Homo sapiens: one gene and its partners. The protein of the gene in region 1 interacts with the protein of each later gene in a pairwise test. Each region holds a gene or a part of one and is shown in the gene's direction. Other genes may lie near its edges. The genes, in order: NLRP12, TLN1, CORO1A, HCK, DNAJA3, BIRC3 and TNRC6C.

What was found.
Region 2: the proteins of NLRP12 (region 1) and TLN1 interact in a two-hybrid assay, tested with the Homo sapiens proteins (one large-scale study listed by IntAct).
Region 3: the proteins of NLRP12 (region 1) and CORO1A interact in a two-hybrid assay, tested with the Homo sapiens proteins (one large-scale study listed by IntAct).
Region 4: the proteins of NLRP12 (region 1) and HCK interact in binary tests that used the Homo sapiens proteins (3 or more experiments, as listed by UniProt).
Region 5: the proteins of NLRP12 (region 1) and DNAJA3 interact in a two-hybrid assay, tested with the Homo sapiens proteins (one large-scale study listed by IntAct).
Region 6: the proteins of NLRP12 (region 1) and BIRC3 interact in a two-hybrid assay, tested with the Homo sapiens proteins (one large-scale study listed by IntAct).
Region 7: the proteins of NLRP12 (region 1) and TNRC6C interact in a two-hybrid assay, tested with the Homo sapiens proteins (one large-scale study listed by IntAct).

The regions. Positions count from the first base shown.
Region 1 is NC_000019.10:53,800,315-53,803,814, reverse strand, and holds part of NLRP12 (NACHT, LRR and PYD domains-containing protein 12), read left to right. Parts: intron 1-2,417; coding exon 2,418-2,588; intron 2,589-3,500. UniProt on the Homo sapiens protein: Plays an essential role as an potent mitigator of inflammation. Primarily expressed in dendritic cells and macrophages, inhibits both canonical and non-canonical NF-kappa-B and ERK activation pathways.
Region 2 is NC_000009.12:35,701,196-35,704,695, reverse strand, and holds part of TLN1 (talin-1), read left to right. Parts: coding exon 1-27; intron 28-197; coding exon 198-364; intron 365-521; coding exon 522-705; intron 706-795; coding exon 796-921; intron 922-1,019; coding exon 1,020-1,136; intron 1,137-3,500. UniProt on the Homo sapiens protein: High molecular weight cytoskeletal protein concentrated at regions of cell-matrix and cell-cell contacts. Involved in connections of major cytoskeletal structures to the plasma membrane.
Region 3 is NC_000016.10:30,186,602-30,189,576, forward strand, and holds the end of CORO1A (coronin-1A), read left to right. Parts: coding exon 1-119; intron 120-214; coding exon 215-344; intron 345-437; coding exon 438-622; intron 623-780; coding exon 781-900; intron 901-1,123; coding exon 1,124-1,228; intron 1,229-1,340; coding exon 1,341-1,486; intron 1,487-1,590; coding exon 1,591-1,648; intron 1,649-1,759; coding exon 1,760-1,975; intron 1,976-2,258; coding exon 2,259-2,363; 3' UTR 2,364-2,475; downstream 2,476-2,975. UniProt on the Homo sapiens protein: May be a crucial component of the cytoskeleton of highly motile cells, functioning both in the invagination of large pieces of plasma membrane, as well as in forming protrusions of the plasma membrane involved in cell locomotion.
Region 4 is NC_000020.11:32,099,799-32,102,356, forward strand, and holds the end of HCK (tyrosine-protein kinase HCK), read left to right. Parts: intron 1-1,518; coding exon 1,519-1,721; 3' UTR 1,722-2,058; downstream 2,059-2,558. UniProt on the Homo sapiens protein: Non-receptor tyrosine-protein kinase found in hematopoietic cells that transmits signals from cell surface receptors and plays an important role in the regulation of innate immune responses, including neutrophil, monocyte, macrophage and mast cell functions, phagocytosis, cell survival and proliferation, cell adhesion and migration.
Region 5 is NC_000016.10:4,449,868-4,453,367, forward strand, and holds part of DNAJA3 (dnaJ homolog subfamily A member 3, mitochondrial), read left to right. Parts: intron 1-532; coding exon 533-630; intron 631-3,500. UniProt on the Homo sapiens protein: Modulates apoptotic signal transduction or effector structures within the mitochondrial matrix. Affect cytochrome C release from the mitochondria and caspase 3 activation, but not caspase 8 activation.
Region 6 is NC_000011.10:102,323,984-102,327,483, forward strand, and holds part of BIRC3 (baculoviral IAP repeat-containing protein 3), read left to right. Parts: 5' UTR 1-526; coding exon 527-1,379; intron 1,380-1,482; coding exon 1,483-1,582; intron 1,583-3,500. UniProt on the Homo sapiens protein: Multi-functional protein which regulates not only caspases and apoptosis, but also modulates inflammatory signaling and immunity, mitogenic kinase signaling and cell proliferation, as well as cell invasion and metastasis.
Region 7 is NC_000017.11:78,087,703-78,091,202, forward strand, and holds part of TNRC6C (trinucleotide repeat-containing gene 6C protein), read left to right. Parts: intron 1-3,500. UniProt on the Homo sapiens protein: Plays a role in RNA-mediated gene silencing by micro-RNAs (miRNAs). Required for miRNA-dependent translational repression of complementary mRNAs by argonaute family proteins.

The DNA.
Region 1 (3,500 bases):
ATCATCTGAGGTCAGGAGTTCGAGACCAGCCTGGCCAACACGGTGAAACCCCCTCTCTACTAAAGATACAAAAATTAGCTGGATGTGGTGGCACACGCCTGTAATCACAGCTACTCAGGGGGCTGAGGCAGGAGGATCACTTGAACCTGAGAGGCGGAAGTTGCAGTGAGCTGAGATCACGTCACTGCACTCCAGCCACGGTGACAGAGTGAGACTCCATCTCAAAAAACAAAGTAGAATAGTGGCTGCCAAGGCCTAGAACAGGAAGAAATGGGGAGTTACCGTTTAACGGGAGCAGAGGTTCCATTTCGGAAGATGAAAAAGTTCCAGAGATGGGCCGGGTGCGGTAGTTCACGCCTGTAATCCCAGCACTTTGGGAGGCCGAGGTGGGCAGATCACCTGAGGTCTGGAGTTCGAGACCAGCCTGACCAACATGGAGAAGCCCCGTCTCTACTAAAATACAAAATTAGCCAGGCGTGGTGGCACATGCCTATAATCCCAACTACTCGGGAGGCTGAGGCAGGAGAATCACTTGAACTTGGGAGGCGGAGGTTGTGGTGAGCCAACACTGTGTCATTGCACTCCAGCCTGGACAACAAAAACGAAACTCCGTCTCAAAAAAAAAAAAAGTTCCAGAGATGGATAGCAGTGATGATTTCCCAGTAGCGTGAAACTACTTCATGCCACTGAGCCACAGTCAGCCCTCTGTGTCCACGGGTTCTGCATTCGTGAATTTCATCAACCATGGATCAAAAATATTCAGAAGGGCAGGGCGCGGTGGCTCACAGCTGTAATCACAACCCTCTGGAAGGCCAAGGCAGGAGAATGGCTTGAGTGCAGGAGCTCAAGAGCAGCCTGGGAACCAGTGAGACTTCATCTCTACAAAAAATAAACATAATTAGCTGGGGTGGGTGGTATGTGTCTGGAGTCCCAGCTATTCAGGAGCCTCGGAGGCCAAGGCTGCAGTGAGCTGTGATCAAGCCACTGTACCCCAGACTGGGTGACAGGGTGAGACCCTGTCCCTAATAAAATAAAAAGTAAATTTAATTGTGGTAAAATACATGCAACATAAAATGTACCATCTTCCCCAGTTTTCTTTTTTTTTTTTGAGACAGAGTCTTGCTCTGTCGCCCAGGCTGGAGTGCAGTGGTGTGATCTCTGCTCACTGCAAGCTCCGCCTCCCGGGTTCACACCATTCTCCTGCCTCGACCTCCCTAGTAGCTGGGACTACAGGCGCCTGCCACCACGCTTGGCTAATTTTTTGTATTTTTAGTAGAGACGGGGTTTCACCGTGTTAGCCAGGATGGTCTCGATCTCCTGACCTCGTGACCCGCCCGCCTCAGCCCCCGAAAGTGCTGGGATTACAGGCGTGAGCCACCATGCCCGGCCGCATTCTATTTATTTTTAATAGTAGGCATCCTAATGGGTATGAGATGCTATCTTATCGTGGTTTTCATTTGTATTTCCCCAATGATTATTGAGATTGAGCATCTTTTCAGGTGCTTTTTGGCCATTTGTACACCTTCCTTGAAGAAATGTGTATTCAAGCCTTTTGCTCATTTATTTTTATTTATTATTTATTTATTTGAGATGGAGTTCCACTCTTGTTGCCCAGGCTGGAGTGCAATGGCGTGATCTCAGCTCACGGCAACCTCCGCCTCCTGGGTTCAAGTGATTCTCCTGCCTCAGCCTCCCAAGTAGCTGGGATTACAGGCATGCGCCACCACGCCCAGCTAATTTTTTGTATTTAGTAGAGACGGGGTTTCACCATGTTAGCCAGGATGGTCTCCATCTCCCAACCTCAGGTGATCCACCCATCTCAGCCTCCCAAAGTGCTGAGATTACAGGCATGAGCCACTGTGCCCAGTCTAATTTTGTATTATTAGTAGAGAGGGGGTTTCTCCATGTTGGTCAGGCTGGTCTCAAACTCCCGACCTCAGGTGATCTGCCAGCCTCGGCCTCCCAAAGTGCTGGGATTACAGGCGTGAGCCACCAGGCCGGGCCCTTTTGCCCATTTTTAAATTAGATTGTCTGAAAATGCATTACTGTTAAGATTGGGGGCCTAGGCGCAGTGGCTCACGCCTGTAATTCCAGTCCTTTGGGAGGCTGAGGCAGGCATATCACCCATGGTCAGGAGTTCGAGACCACCCTAGCCAACATGGCGAGAAACCCTGTCTCTACTAAAAATACAAAAACTAACTAGGCGTGATGCCACACGCTTGTAGTCCCAGCGATTCAGGAGGCTGAGGCAGGAGAATCGCTTGAACATGGGAGGTGGAGGATGCAGCTGAGCCGAGATTGCACCACTGCATTCCAGCCTGGGCAACAGAGTGGGACTCTGTCTCAAAAAAAAAAAAAAAAAAAAAGAAAAAGAAAGGAAAGCCTCCATAATGCTTGTTGAATTGGACTTTGTGCAGGCTGAAGATCTGCCGCCTCACTGCTGCTGCCTGTGACGAGCTGGCCTCAACTCTCAGTGTGAACCAGAGCCTGAGAGAGCTGGACCTGAGCCTGAATGAGCTGGGGGACCTCGGGGTGCTGCTGCTGTGTGAGGGCCTCAGGCATCCCACGTGCAAGCTCCAGACCCTGCGGTGAGTCCCGTTTTGCTCACCACGCTAGGAGTCCCAATCCATGAACGCAGCCCTCTCACCTGGGACCACGGAGGCCAGGTTGTCTCTGCTCCTAAACTCTAGCTACTACATCAGCCTTTTTTTTTTTTTTTTGAGACTCCCAAGTAGCTGAGATTACAGGCGCCCGCCACCAAGCCCAGCTAATTTTTTGTATTTTTAGTAGAGACAGGGTTTCATCATGTTAGCAGGATGGTCTCGATCTACTGACCTCATGATCTGCCTGCCTTGGCCTCCCAAAGTGCTGGGATTACAGGCTTGAGCCACTGCACCCAGCCTACATCAGCCTTTTTAAAAGGATTTTTCTGGCCGGGCATGGTGGCTGACACCTTAATTCCAGCACTTTTGGGAGGCCGAGGTGGGAGGATCACCTGAGGTGGGGAATTCGAGACCAGCCTGACCAACATGTAGAAACACCCCATCTGTACTAAAAATACAAAAGTAGCCAGGCATGGTGGTGCATGCCTATAATGCCAGCTACTCGCGAGGCTGAGGCAGGAGAATCCGTTGAACCCGGGAGGTGGAAGTTGCTGTGAGCTGAGATGGAGCCATTGCACTCCAGTCTGGGCAACAAGAGCGAAACTCCGTCTCAAAAAAAAAAAAGGGGGGGGTTTTCTGACGCACGGCCCTTTGCACAAGCAATTCTTATTCCCTGGCATGCCTTCTGCTCTCTGTCCCCTCTTTGCCTGGAGAAGTTCAATTTTTCTTCTGAACACTCTTTACTTTGTATTTTGAGACAGGGTCTTGCTCTGTCACCAGTGCTGGAGTGGAGTGGTGTGATCATAGCCCGACATCCTGGGCTGAAGCCATCCTCCCAACTCAGCCTCCTGAGTAGCTGGGACTGCAAGCGCATGCCACCACAGATGGCTAATTTTT
Region 2 (3,500 bases), on another chromosome or scaffold:
GAGTGTGCCCGGAGAGTCTCTGAGAAGGTGACGGTGCTCATCCCTGCAGATGGTGGGACTGCCTCCAAACTCTGTAGCCTTTGCCATCCTCCTCCAGCCCTCTCAGCCCTCTCCTGTTGTCACTTCTCCCAGGCATGGGCAACCTTTCCATTTCACATGGCACCTTCCACAGTCACCATGTGACATTCCCTACCCAGGTCTCCCACGTCCTGGCTGCGCTCCAGGCTGGGAATCGTGGCACCCAGGCCTGCATCACAGCAGCCAGCGCTGTGTCTGGTATCATTGCTGACCTCGACACCACCATCATGTTCGCCACTGCTGGCACGCTCAATCGTGAGGGTACTGAAACTTTCGCTGACCACCGGTAAGACAGGAACTGGGCCTAAGGGAGGCAGACAGGTCGGGGCACGGGGCTGGAAGAGGCAGGATAGCATTCGCTGGAATGGGGAAGACCTGGACCAGGCACCTTGGACGGGCTGGAGCGGGTAGGGGAGATCTGACTAAGCTGGGCCCTCCCTCAGGGAGGGCATCCTGAAGACTGCGAAGGTGCTGGTGGAGGACACCAAGGTCCTGGTGCAAAACGCAGCTGGGAGCCAGGAGAAGTTGGCGCAGGCTGCCCAGTCCTCCGTGGCGACCATCACCCGCCTCGCTGATGTGGTCAAGCTGGGTGCAGCCAGCCTGGGAGCTGAGGACCCTGAGACCCAGGTAGTGACCTGATGCCCCTAATTCCGGCTGGAATCACTTCCTGTCCCGCTTCTTCCTCCCATAGACCAGAGCCAACGCTTTCCCACACAGGTGGTACTAATCAACGCAGTGAAAGATGTAGCCAAAGCCCTGGGAGACCTCATCAGTGCAACGAAGGCTGCAGCTGGCAAAGTTGGAGATGACCCTGCTGTGTGGCAGCTAAAGAACTCTGCCAAGGTTGGAGAGAATGAGAGCAACATCAGGAGGGGCACTGGATTAACATACTTCCTCCTGTTCCTTAAAATCATTCCTCTTCACTCCTCTGATACCTCCAGGTGATGGTGACCAATGTGACATCATTGCTTAAGACAGTAAAAGCCGTGGAAGATGAGGCCACCAAAGGCACTCGGGCCCTGGAGGCAACCACAGAACACATACGGCAGGAGCTGGCGGTGAGTGAGAGTCTGGGGCATCAGTGACTAGGGTCAGAGAGAGGGATCCTGAAAGCCTGTGAACCTGTGCCACACATATACTCACAGCTGGAGTCACACACAGTCTTCTCTCTCATCTATCGCCAGACTTTTTTTTTGAGAAGGGTCTTGCTCTGTAGCCATCCTCCTCCAGCCTTCTCAGCCCTCTCCTCTTGTCATTTCTCCCAGGTGTGGGTGACCTTTCCATTTCACATGGCATCTTCCTCAGTCACCATGTGACTTCCCCTACCCCAGCTCTCCCACACCCTCCTTCTGGAGTGCAGTGGCGTGATCTCAGCTCACTACAACCTCCACCTCCCAGGTTCAAGTGCTTCTCATGCCTCAGCCTCCTGAGTCACTGGGAATACAGGTGCATACCATGCTGGCTAGTTTTTGTATTTTTAGTAGAGATGGGGTTTCACCATGTTGACCAGGCTGGTCTCGAACTCCTGGCCTCAAGTGATCCACCCGCCTTGGCCTCCCAAAGTGCTGGGATTACACTCATGAGCCACTGTGCCAGTGAGCTACATTCATGTCTGTCCCCTACCCACTTGTTTATTCCTTAGCATGTGACAACTGTATTTTTTCACCACCCTCCCACTTTCTCCAGTCACTAGTGGCCTCTTCTTAGTTGCTACATTCAGTGGCCACTTCTTGGCCTTCATCCTCTTTGAATATTTCGAAAGCATCTGACTGTGTTAACAAGCCTCTCTTTGAAATTCTTTCTTCTGCTGGGCATGGTGGCTCACGCCAGCACTTTGGGAGGCCAGCGGGTGTAATCCCAGCACTTTGGGAGGCTGAGGCGGGTGGATCACAAGGTCGGGAGTTCGAGACCAGCCTGGCCAATATGGTGAAACCCCGTCTCTACTAAAAATACAAAAATTAGCTGGGCGTGGTGGCACGCGCCTGTAGTCCCAGCTGCTTGGGAGGCTAAGGCAGGAGAATCGCTGGAACCCGGGAGGCAGAGGTTGCAGTGAGCCAAGATGGCGCCACTGCACTCCAGCCTGGGCAACAGAGTGAGACTCCATCTCAAAAAAAAACAAAAAAGAAAAAAAATGAAATTCTTTCTTCCCTTGGCCTAGATACTGGCTTTTCTCTTGTTTCTCGAACGTCATTGAATCACCTTTAACTTAGTAAATGTGGAGGCCTTCCCAGGGTTGTACAAATAGTCTTCCTTCTCTCTTCTCTTCTTTGGCAAGTTTAACCACTTTCATTATTATTCTGTAAGAAGCAGACATCCAGTTCTGAGTTGAGTTATTTTCAACTGCCTGTTTGACATCACCACCTAGATGCAGTGCCTCCGAACCATGACATGGTCCTCCTAATGGTGGGAACACCCTTGCAGTCATGAAGATTCCACCTCAGTCATCTTTGACTTCACCATCTTAGCCACCATATCCAGGCTGTTGCCACGTCCTTTCATTCCTCCTCCCTGGTTCCCTGTCCGCACTCTGGTTCACACTTCCATACTCTCCCGCAATTTGGCTGTGGCACCAGTTTTCTCCCTGGTCTCCCTGCTTCTGGTCCCTGCCACTCTCCTCTCTCCCTACTCATCTTTCTAATTTCTAAATGCATCTTTCTAAGGTTCTGTTTTCACTTTTACTTGAAGATGTCCAAGTTGGAACTCTTGACTTTCTGCCTCCCATACCTGGTCCTTTCCTGGTCTTCCCCCATCTCAGTAAATGGCACCTCTTAGTAACTCAGTTCCTAAAGCCAGAAACCTAGCTTCAATATATTAGACTTCTCTCTTTCTCTCATTCCCCACATCTAAGTTTTGCTAGTGCCCCTTCCAAATACAGCTCATTTTTTCTTTTTATCTCCTACCACTACCACACTGTCCAAACCATCATCAGTCCTTAACTGGATTTATGCAGTAGTCTCTATCCAGTCACCATGCTTCAACACTTGCCCCCTCCAATCCTCCTTTGTACACAGTAGCTAAAATTATGTTTTTAAAATATAAATTAGAGTCTGGACATGCTGGCTGATGCCTGTAAAATCCCAGCGCTTTGGAAGACTGAGATGGGAGGATCACTTGAGTGAGTTCAAGACTAGTCTGGACAACATAGCAAGATCCTGTCTCTACAAAAAATTTAAAGATTAGCTGGGCAAGGTGGCCCATGCCTGTCCCAGTTACTCATGAGTCTGAAGGCAGGAGGATCCCTTGAGCCCAGGGGTTCAAGTCTGCAGTGAACTATGATCACTCCAGTGCACTCCAGCCTGGGTGACAGAGCAAGAAATATATATATATTAGATTATGTCACTTCACTACTTAAAACCCATTAGTGATGGCTCTGCTTGCTTCTCCAGTCTCATCCTACTCTCTTCCTTTCTGTGCCCCATCCC
Region 3 (2,975 bases), on another chromosome or scaffold:
GACGTGTGGACAAGAATGCGCCCACGGTCTGTGGCCACACAGCCCCTGTGCTAGACATCGCCTGGTGCCCGCACAATGACAACGTCATTGCCAGTGGCTCCGAGGACTGCACAGTCATGGTGAGTGGTGGTGGGGACCCAGGGGCTGGGAGAGGGGCTCTAGGATGGGATCTGACATTTGGAGTCCTGAAGACTCACTGGCCCCTCCTCTGCAGGTGTGGGAGATCCCAGATGGGGGCCTGATGCTGCCCCTGCGGGAGCCCGTCGTCACCCTGGAGGGCCACACCAAGCGTGTGGGCATTGTGGCCTGGCACACCACAGCCCAGAACGTGCTGCTCAGTGCAGGTGCTGCGGGAGGAGGGGCTTGGGGGTGGCTCGTGGCCTGCAGTGGATGAGGGCAGGAGGCTCATGGCTTCTGACACTGTGGGGAACGTGCAGGTTGTGACAACGTGATCATGGTGTGGGACGTGGGCACTGGGGCGGCCATGCTGACACTGGGCCCAGAGGTGCACCCAGACACGATCTACAGTGTGGACTGGAGCCGAGATGGAGGCCTCATTTGTACCTCCTGCCGTGACAAGCGCGTGCGCATCATCGAGCCCCGCAAAGGCACTGTCGTAGCTGTGAGTCGCCATCTACCCTGACCTTTGACCCTACAGCCTTTATCCTTCTTATCCACCATCAGCCAGGCCCTTGGATGCTGCCCTCCCTCGCCTCCACCTGGGACTGGCCCCGTAGGGTATGTACGGGTGCCTGACCTACCACCTCCCTTTCCTTGCAGGAGAAGGACCGTCCCCACGAGGGGACCCGGCCCGTGCGTGCAGTGTTCGTGTCGGAGGGGAAGATCCTGACCACGGGCTTCAGCCGCATGAGTGAGCGGCAGGTGGCGCTGTGGGACACAGTGAGTGCTGGGGCAGGAAGCCGAGGGCCCCCAGGCTGGGAACCAAGACTGGAGGTTTCGTCCCTGCTCTGCCACTCACCTGGCAGGATGGCCATGGGCCTCAGTTTACCCAGGCGTGAGATGGTTGTTCCCACTGGTTGGTCGGGAGGGCCCTCACAGGTCACTGCCCAGGGAAGACCACCATCCCAGGGCCTGGGATGTTACCTCTCACCTGTGTCTACAGAAGCACCTGGAGGAGCCGCTGTCCCTGCAGGAGCTGGACACCAGCAGCGGTGTCCTGCTGCCCTTCTTTGACCCTGACACCAACATCGTCTACCTCTGTGGCAAGGTGGCCTCGTCGGGCGGGGTGGGGGTGGGAGGTGGGCAGGATGGGCCTGGAGAGGGCCAGGGCAGTGGGCATCCGCTGGTATTGACCCTCCCTCCACACCTGCCACCTACAGGGTGACAGCTCAATCCGGTACTTTGAGATCACTTCCGAGGCCCCTTTCCTGCACTATCTCTCCATGTTCAGTTCCAAGGAGTCCCAGCGGGGCATGGGCTACATGCCCAAACGTGGCCTGGAGGTGAACAAGTGTGAGATCGCCAGGTGACTGACCCCCGGCCCTGACCGCAGCATGCTCCTTGGGCAGTGGGCAGTCCCAAGCCCACCCAACCAGACTGTGGGCCCCGCTCACCTTCCCCTTCCCACAGGTTCTACAAGCTGCACGAGCGGAGGTGTGAGCCCATTGCCATGACAGTGCCTCGAAAGGTGATGCTCCCCCGCCCCACCCTGGGCTCCAGGCTGGGCACTGACTTTGCGGTCTTGTGGGGGGTGTCCTGGCATAAGCGCTTTCCTCACTATCCCTGGCCTTGCCCACAGTCGGACCTGTTCCAGGAGGACCTGTACCCACCCACCGCAGGGCCCGACCCTGCCCTCACGGCTGAGGAGTGGCTGGGGGGTCGGGATGCTGGGCCCCTCCTCATCTCCCTCAAGGATGGCTACGTACCCCCAAAGAGCCGGGAGCTGAGGGTCAACCGGGGCCTGGACACCGGGCGCAGGAGGGCAGCACCAGAGGCCAGTGGCACTCCCAGCTCGGTGAGAGGGCTGGGAAGCCAGGGAATAAAACTGGGAGGGTGGGGTGGGGCTGGTGTTTGGGGCACCTCAAACTCACAACATTGGGAATCTTTGTGGGTCCGGGAATGGTAATCCTGAGGCCTCAGAACACAGGTTTCAGATTGATAGGCCTGCAGGTCTCCAGGCAGCAACCAGCTGAGCGACTAAAGGGCCCAAGGCCAGGGCTCTAGGGATGGGGCTCAGCAGAGGCTGGGGTAAGGGGAGCCAGGGAGGAGCTGGGCCTAATGCAGCACCGGGTCCCCAGGATGCCGTGTCTCGGCTGGAGGAGGAGATGCGGAAGCTCCAGGCCACGGTGCAGGAGCTCCAGAAGCGCTTGGACAGGCTGGAGGAGACAGTCCAGGCCAAGTAGAGCCCCGCAGGGCCTCCAGCAGGGTCAGCCATTCACACCCATCCACTCACCTCCCATTCCCAGCCACATGGCAGAGAAAAAAATCATAATAAAATGGCTTTATTTTCTGGTACCTCCCAGACTCTGATGACTGGTCCCCTAGACACGCAGTTTGCTGAACCAACCAGCCCTAGAGCTTCCCCTCCACCGCGCTGAGGGGACTGACCCATGGCAGGGGATGTGGGATGCCCCCTGACTTACTACATCACAGGAACAGGGCCTTCGTGGGTAGAAACCAGCCATGCTGATGTGGGCCAGGAGGCTGCTCTCCGTTTCCGAGCTCCTTCTCAGAGCTGACACAGCTGAACTATTTAAGGCCCTAGCTTAGAACCTCAATAATTCCCAAATTTACCAAAAATCTGCCTTTCCTAGTCAACCAAAACATCACGTTGCACGTGACTCTGCTGGCACTGTTGCTTGTGAGGAAATGAACCAACCATCACTTACAGGGTAGGCATCTTTTAAACTGCAGGTCCAAAGATAAAAATAACGAGGGAGGCTGGGCATGGGGACTCACGTCTATAATCCCAGCACTGTGGGAGGCTGAGGCGGCAGGATCATTTGAGCCCAGGA
Region 4 (2,558 bases), on another chromosome or scaffold:
CATCAGTCTTACTGCTTTCTCCCTCCTCGTCCTACAGCCTATTCTCCACTTGCAGCCAGAAGGATAATTCTAAACTTTAAATCAGATCTTGTCCTTTCTCCACCTTTTTTTTTTTTTTTAAGACAAGGTCTCACTCTGTCACTGAGGCTGTAGTGCAGTGGTGTAATCATAGCTCATGGCAGCCTCGACTTCCTAGGCTCAAATGATCCTCCCGCTTCAGCCTCCCGAGTATCTGGGACCATAGGCACATGCCACCATGTCTGGCTATTTTTTATTTTTTTAATTTTTTTGTAGAGACTTGGTCTCACTACGTTGTGCAGCCTGGTCTCTAACTTCCAGGCTCAAACGATCCTCCAGCCTTGGCCTCCCAAAATGCTGGGATTACAGACACACACCACCATGCCCAGCTAATTCTTTAAATTTTTTGAGAGACAAGGTATTGCTATGTTGCCGGGCTGGTGATTTCCATTTTTAAGCGATGCTTTCAGCATGGAGAGTGAATGGGAGGGAAAGGGAACAGGGTGGCAGCCAGTGAGGAGGCCACAGCAGTGGCCCAGGCAGAGGTGATGATGGTCTGGACAGGGTGGTGGCATTCGTGACTGGCATACGTTGATGAACTGGTGCTACGTTTCAAAAGGAGAAAAGATCTGACTTGCTGACTTAGGAGGTGAGAGAGAGAGAATAAAGGATGATTACCCTGGCTTTGCACCACAGGGTGGGTAATGGTCTAGGGATAGAAATTGGAGAGCTCTGTTTTAGCTCTGCTAAATTTGAGTTGACTTAAATATAGAGACATCCAAGTAAAGGAAGCACTTGAGTTCATGAGTTTGGAGTTTGAGACTAATAATATAAAATTGGGGATCACAGACATTGAATGGCTATTCTTATGAATAGCTAATAGAAACTTGAACTGAACAAAAAAATGGTCCCACCCATAGGTTAACATTGAATCTGGCCACCTGAATGTTTTGTCTTGAGGGTGCACTAGTCAAAACCAGGCAACACACAATAGACGCTGAATCCATTAGGATGTGTTCCACAGCAAGCAACAAAATAACAGACAAAGAGTAACTGAAATAGAAGCAATCTATTACTCCCAATCTTCCATTGGTGACTGGTTAGTTCAGCAACTCAGCAGCTGTCAGGACTCTGGGTTCCTGTCTCTATGATGGTCTTCTCCATGTTGTCAGCTCCAAGTATCATAAGTATCTCACAGTGTTCAAAGGAAGAGATGAAGGGTGCGTTCTCCAAAGACTCTCCTCTAAGCGGGAGGAAAAACCTTTCCATCACTTTCCCAGCAGACCTCCCCATCAGCTCCCATTGGCCCAAACTGGGTCCCAGGCCCATGTCCTAGCTGCAAGTGAAGCTGAGGGTGGAAGTCTGTCTTTCACAGTGGAAGGGGCTCAGCTTGCAAGGTGAGGTGGGGAGTGATGCCTGCTGGGGAGGCCACAGGGCCTGCCACCCCTGGGCTCTCATTTCCCAACTGCTTCCGTTTCTAATTCCACGGCTCCTTTTCAGGGATGTCAAACCCTGAAGTGATCCGAGCTCTGGAGCGTGGATACCGGATGCCTCGCCCAGAGAACTGCCCAGAGGAGCTCTACAACATCATGATGCGCTGCTGGAAAAACCGTCCGGAGGAGCGGCCGACCTTCGAATACATCCAGAGTGTGCTGGATGACTTCTACACGGCCACAGAGAGCCAGTACCAACAGCAGCCATGATAGGGAGGACCAGGGCAGGGCCAGGGGGTGCCCAGGTGGTGGCTGCAAGGTGGCTCCAGCACCATCCGCCAGGGCCCACACCCCCTTCCTACTCCCAGACACCCACCCTCGCTTCAGCCACAGTTTCCTCATCTGTCCAGTGGGTAGGTTGGACTGGAAAATCTCTTTTTGACTCTTGCAATCCACAATCTGACATTCTCAGGAAGCCCCCAAGTTGATATTTCTATTTCCTGGAATGGTTGGATTTTAGTTACAGCTGTGATTTGGAAGGGAAACTTTCAAAATAGTGAAATGAATATTTAAATAAAAGATATAAATGCCAAAGTCTTTACCAAAACGTTGGTTTTCCTGTCCTTCCAATTCCTGAATATCTATTTGCCTTCTTGCTGTATGACAAGTCAGAAATGGTGAAGGACTCTCCCGGGGACCAGAAATACAAAGACAAGTGGGGTTCAGACTGGGTGCTGTGGCTCCCACCTATAATACCAGTGCTTTGGGAGACCGAGGAGCGGGGGATTGCTTGAGCCCAGGAGGTCGAGGCCACAGTGAGCTATGATCGTGCCACTGCACTCTAGCCTGAGCGACACAGTGAGACCCTGTTTAAAAAAAAAAAAAAAAGATGAAGAAGAAGAAAGAAAGGAAAGGAAAGAAAATTGGGGTTCAATGCTTGAGGTTTTCTAACTGCCCTAAAATAGTTACTGGCTATATTAGTTTCCTCTTGCTCCTGTAACAAATTACCACATATCTGGTAGCTTAAGACAACAAAACTGCATAACATTACTTGGCCGGGCATAATGGCTCATGCCTATAGTTCCAGCATTTTGGGAGACTGAGGTG
Region 5 (3,500 bases), on another chromosome or scaffold:
CAATCTCCACCTCCCAGATTTAAGCAATTCTCCTGCCTCAGCCTCCCAAGTAGCTGGGACTATAGGCATGTGCCGCCACGCCCAGCTAATTTTTGTATTTTCAGTAGAGACGGGGTTTCACCTTGTTGGCCAGGATGGTCTCTATCTCCTGACCTTGTGATCCGCCCACCTTGGCCTCCCAAAATGCTGGGATTACAGGCATGAGCCACTGCGCCTGGCCTAATTAGATAATTTCTTACTTGCTTCACATACACACTGGTAAAATCTGTTTCCCCTCCTGTAAACTGTATTTAGCATAGCCACAGTGACACTTGTTTAAATGACTTAGTGTAGGGTGTTTTAGGAGCTTTTCTGTACAGAAGCTTTGAGGGCATGGTCCTTAGGTTCTCACCGCTGCACTGGCTCAGGGTGTCCGCCCCTGCCAAGGTTGGGTCCCTCTCTTCCCATGTGCTGCGAGGGTGCTGGCTGCCTGTGAGTTCTTTCCAAAGCTTCCCGGCGGAAGCCTTGGCTGCTGACTCTGCTCGGTCCACAGGAGGCTAACGAGCCGGCAGCAGAGCCTGATCCTGAGCTACGCCGAGGACGAGACAGATGTGGAGGGGACGGTGAACGGCGTCACCCTCACCAGCTCTGGTAAGGAGTCTGAAGACTACATGGTGACACGTGGGGGCCTCAGAGCCCCCCAGGGTATGGACAATTCAGGGCAGCATGTTGGGGTTTCCACTTCGGGTTCTTCATGAAGCCTTTAAAATGTGCAGTTGAAAGAGGGGGGCTGTGGGCGGGGACAGCGGGCAGGGAGCCGCAGCCCCCAGTCCAAGCTTCGCCTCCTCTCTCTGTGTGTGTTTCTGTGCTGAGGTGAGAGCACCAGGGCACTTCCTGCAGGCAGCTCTGCGTGTCTCAGACCCAGTGTTCTGAGTTCTATTCTTGGTTCTGCCACTTGCCCTGTGACCTCGGACAAATCCTTCCCTGAGAGCTCCTGGCAAAAGCGTAAGGAGAGAGCATGGATTGGAAGGATTTGTGCACTTCCCACCTGGGACACTCCGCCAGGATTTCAGAGTGTCTTAAAACAACAGCAGCCACAGCAGTGGAGCCGCAGTCAGCAGACTCCGTCCGCCGCTTTAGAGCAGGACTCCCTCCAAGTTATCTAGCCGTGAACAGATGCACCATTTACCCTGAGCTCAGACATCGTGCTAGCGAGTGGCTGTGTTAGGGATCTGTCACCAGAACACCTGCTGTGGGCGCTGAGACAATGGCACCCCAGCTGCAGCCCCTCTTCCCATGGGGTCTGGGGCCTCTTTCCTGGGACTCCTGGCTCAGGGCAGGGCAGGCTGTGCCCAGGGGTCCTTGGTTCAGGCGGCATGTATTTCCTCCTCATTGCATCATTTTGTTTTTGTTTGGATCCTGGGTGGAGTTCTCAGAACTTGAGCAGCCTTAGATTAGTGCATGGTAATTCGTAGCAGGTGTTTGGAGCTGGGGGCCGATTTTCCAATAAAGTGGAGGATTTGGAGCTCCAGGGGCAGGGGCAGGGGCTGGGATGGAAGTCCCTGGAATTTCACTGAGCTCCTGTTGCTCCCAGGGGACTGGAATTCCTCTGTTAAAAAGCAGCTGCCGGCCGGGCGCAGTGGCTCTTGCCTGTAATCCCAGCACTTTGGGAGGCAGGGGCAGGTGGATCACTTGAAGTCAGGAGTTTGAGACCAGCCTGGACAGCATGGCGAAACCCCATCCCTACTAAAAATACAAAAATTAGCTGGGTATGGTGGTGCATGCCTGTAATCTCAGCTACTCAGGACGCTGAGGCAGGAGAATCGCTTGAACCCAGGAGGCAGAGGATGCAGTGAGCCAAGACCACACCACTGCACTCCAGCTTGGGTGACAGTGAGACTCTCTGAAAAAAAAAAAAAAAAAAAAAAAAAGGGCCTGGCGCGGTGGCTCACGCCTGTAATCCTAGCACTTTGGGACGCCGAGGAGGGTGGATCACGAGGTCAGGAGTTTGAGACCAGCCTGACCAACATGGTGAAACCCTGTCTCTACTAAAAAAAAAAAAAAAATACAAAAACTAGCGGGGCATGGTGGTGGGCATCCATAATCCCAGCTACTCTGGAGGCTGAGGCAGGATAATTGCTTGAATCCAGGAGGCAGAGGGTGCAGTGAGCCAAGATTGCACCACTGCACTACAGCCTGGGTGACATAGCGAGACTCTGTCTCAAAAAAACAACAACAAAAAAGCAGCTGCCACAAAACTCTGTAGCCCAACCAGGTTCCAAATGTCACTTATTTTAATGGTTTGGTACATATACTGTGTATATGTATACTATCTTTTGTTCTTGTTGTATCTCTTGAACTAAAATAGAAGTGGTAATAGAGTAGCTATTCCCCGGAACTCTAATCAGTGCACCTGTGGCTTCTCCTTCCTCAAACCCTACAATCACATAACATGCGAGATTGGTTCCATAGACAGCTGTCCTTCCCTCCTCCCGCCCATCAGGGTAGCTTGAGGTGTGCTACGGCCGGGCCCTGGGTGGGTTCGTGGGTGTTGCTTACTCTGTTGGAGGTTGGGTATTACTGGTCACCAGTTGATGTTTTGACCCTCTCTCTGATACTGTAAGTTGAAAGTTGATTCCGCCACCCACTGAGATCCTTTGTCACTTCCATGGTTACTTGTCCTGATCACTCAGCCTCACTCAGCTGTTCCCTCACTCAGCCAGGATGTCTTCTCCTGTGTGCAAGACACTGTCAGCTCTTCCTTTTAAAGATCTTGGTGAGGCCGGATGCAGCGGCTCACACCTATAATCCCAGCACTTTGGGCGGCTAATGCAGGAAGATCACTTGAACCCAGGAGTTCGAGACCAGCCTGGGCAATATAGCGAGACTCTGTCTCTACAAAAAATTTCAAAACTAGCCAGGTGCAAAGTAGTATGCACCTCTATCACCAGCTACTTGGGAAGCTGAGATGAGAAGATCACTTGAGCCTTAGTACTCAAGGCTGCGGTGAGTCATGACAGCGACACTGTACTCCAGCCTGGGTGCCAGGGCAAGACTCTGTCCCTAAGCATACACCGTCACATGTCAGTCTGCTGCCTGTGGGTGGTTAAGTCTCTCATTATACTGTGAAGACAGTTAGTTTTGCATCCACATATGACAGTATTACAGGACATATAATTCTCATGTCCTAAGAACTTAAGCAACAGTGGGATTTATTTATTTATTTGAGGCAGAGTCTTGCTCTGTGGCCCAGCCTGGAGTGCAGTGGTGCAGTCATAGCTCACGGCAGCCTCAAACTCCTGGACTCAAGTGATCCTCCCACCTTGGCCTCCCAGAGTGTTGGAATTACAGACATGAGCCACTGTGCCTGACCAGCATAGTTTTTGATGCGTTTAGTATCTTAATGTAGCTGCTGAAAACCTTAAGAGCTGACCCCGGTCTCCCAGAAAGACCATGGTGTGCTTAGAGACTCAGCACTTGCAGGGATAAACAGGTCCATCTTCTGGCGAACAGAGAGGGAA
Region 6 (3,500 bases), on another chromosome or scaffold:
TTTCCTGGCCACTAAATTTCACAATTTCCAAAAAGCAAAATAAACATATTCTGAATATTTTTGCTGTGAAACACTTGACAGCAGAGCTTTCCACCATGAAAAGAAGCTTCATGAGTCACACATTACATCTTTGGGTTGATTGAATGCCACTGAAACATTCTAGTAGCCTGGAGAAGTTGACCTACCTGTGGAGATGCCTGCCATTAAATGGCATCCTGATGGCTTAATACACATCACTCTTCTGTGAAGGGTTTTAATTTTCAACACAGCTTACTCTGTAGCATCATGTTTACATTGTATGTATAAAGATTATACAAAGGTGCAATTGTGTATTTCTTCCTTAAAATGTATCAGTATAGGATTTAGAATCTCCATGTTGAAACTCTAAATGCATAGAAATAAAAATAATAAAAAATTTTTCATTTTGGCTTTTCAGCCTAGTATTAAAACTGATAAAAGCAAAGCCATGCACAAAACTACCTCCCTAGAGAAAGGCTAGTCCCTTTTCTTCCCCATTCATTTCATTATGAACATAGTAGAAAACAGCATATTCTTATCAAATTTGATGAAAAGCGCCAACACGTTTGAACTGAAATACGACTTGTCATGTGAACTGTACCGAATGTCTACGTATTCCACTTTTCCTGCTGGGGTTCCTGTCTCAGAAAGGAGTCTTGCTCGTGCTGGTTTCTATTACACTGGTGTGAATGACAAGGTCAAATGCTTCTGTTGTGGCCTGATGCTGGATAACTGGAAAAGAGGAGACAGTCCTACTGAAAAGCATAAAAAGTTGTATCCTAGCTGCAGATTCGTTCAGAGTCTAAATTCCGTTAACAACTTGGAAGCTACCTCTCAGCCTACTTTTCCTTCTTCAGTAACAAATTCCACACACTCATTACTTCCGGGTACAGAAAACAGTGGATATTTCCGTGGCTCTTATTCAAACTCTCCATCAAATCCTGTAAACTCCAGAGCAAATCAAGATTTTTCTGCCTTGATGAGAAGTTCCTACCACTGTGCAATGAATAACGAAAATGCCAGATTACTTACTTTTCAGACATGGCCATTGACTTTTCTGTCGCCAACAGATCTGGCAAAAGCAGGCTTTTACTACATAGGACCTGGAGACAGAGTGGCTTGCTTTGCCTGTGGTGGAAAATTGAGCAATTGGGAACCGAAGGATAATGCTATGTCAGAACACCTGAGACATTTTCCCAAATGCCCATTTATAGAAAATCAGCTTCAAGACACTTCAAGATACACAGTTTCTAATCTGAGCATGCAGACACATGCAGCCCGCTTTAAAACATTCTTTAACTGGCCCTCTAGTGTTCTAGTTAATCCTGAGCAGCTTGCAAGTGCGGGTTTTTATTATGTGGGTAAGAAACTGAATCTGCTAATTAAAAAAAATATATTTCATTTTATACATTTTAGTGGGCAAATTATGTGTATTCATAAGTTTTGGTCTAAAATTAATTTTAGGTAACAGTGATGATGTCAAATGCTTTTGCTGTGATGGTGGACTCAGGTGTTGGGAATCTGGAGATGATCCATGGGTTCAACATGCCAAGTGGTTTCCAAGGTAATTGTTTTGAAATTCTCTTTGCAAATTCTTGTGATTATCATGAGATTGCTTATATGTGTTCACCTGAAATCAGTTGTTACTTTACTCTGTTCCAAATATATATTTGTGAATAAGTTTAGGATGGATTACTTAGTAAAATACTTACTTAAAAAGTTTCGATGGACTTAAGACAACGAAGAAATAGATTTGGGGATTTTTGTTTAATTTTTAAAGAAATATATATATATTTAAATAATACATGCTCATTATAAAAACAAAGTCACACATTGTAGAAAAGCACAGAGAAGGAAAATTAAAATGTCCAGAAATCTTACCGCCTAAGGATGAGCATGGTTACCACTTTAGTGAACATCCCTCCAGACATATAGAAATAAATGTATATGATACATATACATATAGAAATAAATACATATACATATAGAAATAAATGTACACCATTTTACATAAGTTAAATATTATATCTAGTTTTGAAGTTTTTTCAGTCAACATTTGTCTTGGATATATTTCCATTCATTCGGTATTCAATAATAATTGATCACCTATTGGCAGGCATTGTTCTGGGTGCATAAAATCAGTTGAACAAAACAAAGACCCCTGGTCTCCTAAGTTTTTATTATAGCACGAGAGAACAGACAACTAATAAAAACTTGAATAAGTTCTATAGCATGTTGGAAAATAAGTACAATCAATAAAAAGAACAAAGAGGAGTTTAGAAATGCCAGGCAGGTTACAATATTAAATTGGGTGGTCAGGGTAAGTATAGACTCATCTCATCTGTTTTAGTCGCCACGCAGCATTTTAATGTGATGTGTTACCCTTTTGATTGTTTAACTGGCCACCTAGTGTTCTAGTTAATCCTGATTAGCTTGCAAGTGTGGGTTTTTATCACGTGGGTAAGAAACTTAATGTACTAACTAAAATATCAGCTTCAAAAAGTTTTTTACACTCTCCTTTTTCATCTAAATCATGTGGCCTACAATTACATTTTTTCATGGTCAAAACTTTTGCTATTATTCAACCCGTTTCCCATTTGCCCTGAGAATACTGCACTGGCAACAAGCTGCACTGTTTTTTTTCTAAATGGGAAATGGGTTAATATCGATTAATAAATGTGGCATCTTAACTTATTTTGATTACTTTTTTTCCTCTTTTCTTTTGAGATGGAGCCTGGCTCTGTTGCCCAGATTGGAGTGCGATGGTGTGATGTCAGCTCACTGCAACCTCCGCCTCTTGGGTTCAGGCAATTCTCATGCCTCGAGCCTCGCTAGTAGCTGGGATTACAGGTGCACGCTAGCATGCCCAGCTAATTTTTGTATTTTTGTAGAGACAGGGTTTCACCATGTTGTCCAGGCTGGTCTCAAACTCCTGACCTCAGGACTTTGAGGTGCTTGCCCGGCCAACATCAGTGTGTTTTAAGAATCTTAGAAGAGTTGAAGAGAGTAGCTAAGAGCTCTGAGGAGAGATGGTCTTACTTGACCTCAGTAGACTGAGGGGCTCCTGACCCTTGTCCACTTGAGCCTTGGTAGATAACTAGTAATCACCTTCCTCTTGCTTATATCAACCTGCCTTTCACTGCAATATCTCTGACCATTCCCTATATGCTAAATGAATAGTAAATTGATTATATGTACATTTATACTCATTTGAAATATTTATACTTCACAATATATTAAGAGTAAATTGATTATATGTATGTTTATACTCACTTGAAATAGCCAGTCTACAAATGGCTGGATTAGTCCTGCCCAAATTAAGATAAACCTTTAGAACTTTTCAAAATTAGCTGAAGTGGTCGGGTGCAGTGGCTCATGCCTGTAATCGCAGCACTTTGGGAGGCTGAGGCAGGAGGATCACTTGAGGTCAGGAGTTCGAGACCAGTATGGCAACATGGTAAAGCCCCATCTCCACTAAAAAT
Region 7 (3,500 bases), on another chromosome or scaffold:
TGGTTGTTGATACAACTCATTTTGTATGAAATGTGATTTGTATAATCGACCAAATCAACATATATATGTTGAAATCTAACTTGTAGAAGCACACTCAGCACTTGAAACCCGCAGGTCAGTAGAAGACATGGTGCCAGGCCTCGAGGTCAGGCCAGTCAGGAGAGACACAGCTCACATACCTGAAGACACCAGAGGGTATAAATTAGTAAATTGATTCTGCATGGACTAATTTGCCGTAAGAATTCAGAAGTTAGTGAAAGCACTTTAGGCTTGTCTGTTGATTGCTATTAGAGTCTGTAGATACAGGACAAAGGGTTATCGGTAACTTGGAAAATACATCTGTAAAGGGGCAAAGGCCAGTTGAGTGGTAGTGAATTTGCTGCCAGCAGATAATATTCATTTATCTAATTCTATTCAATGTCTCTGAAAAGAGCGGTATATTGTAATCATATGAATCCTTTTTACTTGACATATTATAAATGTGGTATATCTTTAATATGAGATTGATAAATACTAGACTAGATGATCTCGTTCCTTAATTATTGTCTCATCCATTAGAGCCCTTTGTGTCGAAGTAGGTAAGACCTGACTTAGGAATTAGACTCCCTAGGTTTGAGTCCCAACTCACCACCAAGAGGCTCACTACTAACTTGGGCAACTTGCCTAGCTGCTGTTTGCTTCAATTTCTTTATTTTTCTTTCTTTTTTTTTTGGTAGAGACAGGGTCTTTCTATGTTGCCCAGGCAAGTCTCAAAACTCCTGGCCTCAAGTGATCCTCCCTAAGTGTTAGGATTACAGGCCTGAGACACCATACTGAGCCATGCCTTAATTTCTTCATCTGTAATGTGGAAATACTTAACTCCTAGGTTTGTTTTAAAGATTAAATGAGCTAATATGTAAAGTTCTCTTTTTTCTTTTTTTTTTCTCTCTCTTTTTTTTTTTGGCTGGAGTGCAGTGGCGTGATCATAGCTCATTGCAGCCTCAAACTCCTGGCCTTAAGTGATCCTGCTGGTCTCAGCTTCCCAAAGTGCTGTGATTACAGGCATGAGCCATCACACCTGGCCTAATATGTAAAGTTCTTAAATAGTGCCTAGCACATAGCAAACACTTTGTAAAATGTCAGCTACTTATGTAAGTGCTTCTGTTTTAGAAACAAATTTCATCCCACCTATTATCCTAAAATGCATTAGCTTCAGCTTTCTATTATTCACCTGTCTTCTTAACCTATATTTGGAGGATAAAGTACACTTATCGTTACTTTTTTTTTTTTTTTTTTTTTTTTTTGAGATAGAGTCTTGCTCTGTTGCCCAGGCTGGAGTGCGATGGCGCAGTCTCGGCTCACTGCAACCTCCACCTTCTGGATTCAAGCAATTCTCCTGCCTCAGCCTCCCAAATTGATGGGATTACAGGCATGCATCACCACGCCTGGCTAATTTTTGTATTTTTAGTAGAGACTGGGTTTCACCATGTTGGCCAGGCTGGTCTCAAACTCCTGACCTCAAGTGATCCGCTCACCTAAGCCTCCCAAAGTGTTGGGATTACAGGCGTGAGCCACCGTGCCCGACCACTTATCTTTACTCTTAAGGATTTTTTCTCTTAGTACAAGTTAAAGAATTCATGCAGTGAATCTTTGAAATTAGTTGAAAAATAATTTGGATAATATTTTATAATATTCACAGTAAAGTTATAAATGTATTAAAAGCAAATAACTAATAAAGTCTAGGAAACTTTGGTTGTAAAATTGCCTATCTTGTTGGCTCTCAGCATTTCTCTGCAGCAGCACCTATGTTGAAGAGCCTGTTAGACACTCATCAATTCATGTAAAGAAACCAGCAGCCCATGGTCAGTAGTGGGGGCTCCTAGCTACCTTCCTTCCCTCATGTTCAGCCTGTCGTTGTTATTCTCAGTCTTTTGCCACCTGGAGTTCGCCATCTAGATAGGAAGAGCAGGCATATAAATGGGAAAAAATAACCTTGATACCAGTGTCATGTGATTCTTACAGGGCTCTAGAGAAGGAAAAGTTCACTTTCACTTTGAGTGGTGAAAGAAAAATCAGAGAGTAGGATTAAGCTTGAACCTCAAATGATTGGATAGGATTACAGTAAATAAAGAGGAAGCCTTTCCAAATAAAGGGGAAGCCTCACGTAGCACAGAAGAAAGAGGCCTGGCTTGTTTCAGGGGCCCATTTTGCAAGGGCCAGGCCAGTCTAGCTGACTTTCCCAGAGGGGAAAGTTGGGAGAGATGGGTTGGCGCCAAATTGTGAAATTTGGAGCATTCTGAAGGCCAGGTTGAAGCCCTGACATTGTTGCCACCTTACCTGGCTAGATCTGTACAAGCTGAAACGAAAAGAACCCACACAGCAGAGATTGCAAGTAGGCAGCCCTGTGGCACTGATGGGCTTGCAAAGGCGTTTTGTTAGGTCTGCGAAGTGTGTGTGTGCATGTGCATAGGTGTGTGTTAATGCCAACATTCAAAAATTGGGGAAAGTGGCTTCTGGCTTCTCTTAAAAATGGCTATAGTGGGTCTATGTTCCAGGTAGCAATAGGTGGTTGGCCCCAGTAGCACCTGTTTATTTAGACAGGACAGACACTCTCTGGTTTGCCACAGTCCCCATGAAGCCCACTTCTTCATGTGCATGGCCCACCTGGCTCCTATGGGCATTTGAATTTGCAGCCTCTGAAATAAAGGTAAGAACCAGAATGTTCAGCACCTGGCTAAGTAGTAGAGGCTCACTGTGCTTACGTACCGTGTGGCGTAGTACTTACGGTAAGGACCTATGGGGTATGTGTATGTGGTAAGGGGAACTGCAGCTGGAAATACAAGGGGAGGGGGGCGCTTGTGCTGGTTATTCCCTTCCAAACAAGCAGTCTGTCCTGCTCCAAACTAGTGTCCTCATCAGAAACTCTTTACTTCAACCTTCTTTTCATTGTCCTCCTCATCATCTTTCTTTATTAACCTAGCTTAGTGCAGGTCCTGGACAAATAACCAGGTACCTGCTTTTAGCTATAAGGAATGAGCCCAGAAGCCTCAGCTCACCATCCCAGCTGGGGGCAGATGGCAGCACCCCCGCTGTCAAATAGTTCAGTTCCTTAAAAGTAGTTTGATACTTAATTCACAGACTCTTTCAGAGCAGACTTTTGTAAAGGAAACTCACTAAAGGTAGAACTGAATTATCCTATCAGTCTGTTTCATAGGTGGTACTTTAGAGTTCTGGAAAAGTGTTTTTGACCTGATGAGTTTCCGTAAGATATCCCAAAACAAAGAAAGATTTTCCTAATAGTTTGGACTTTTTCTATTTTCCTGTGGACTCTGAGAAGCCTCAGGACCATGTTTATTCAGCACTGAAACAAGTAAAATGAAGAGAATTGTGGGCCTTACTTAATCAAAGACTATTCACATTTTCACCTTAATTTAGGAATAATATTCCTAGAAATACATGTTGTTATGACGATAAGTAGTATTTTTTCACCAGCACTAAAAGTTATAGTTAAAATATTTTGC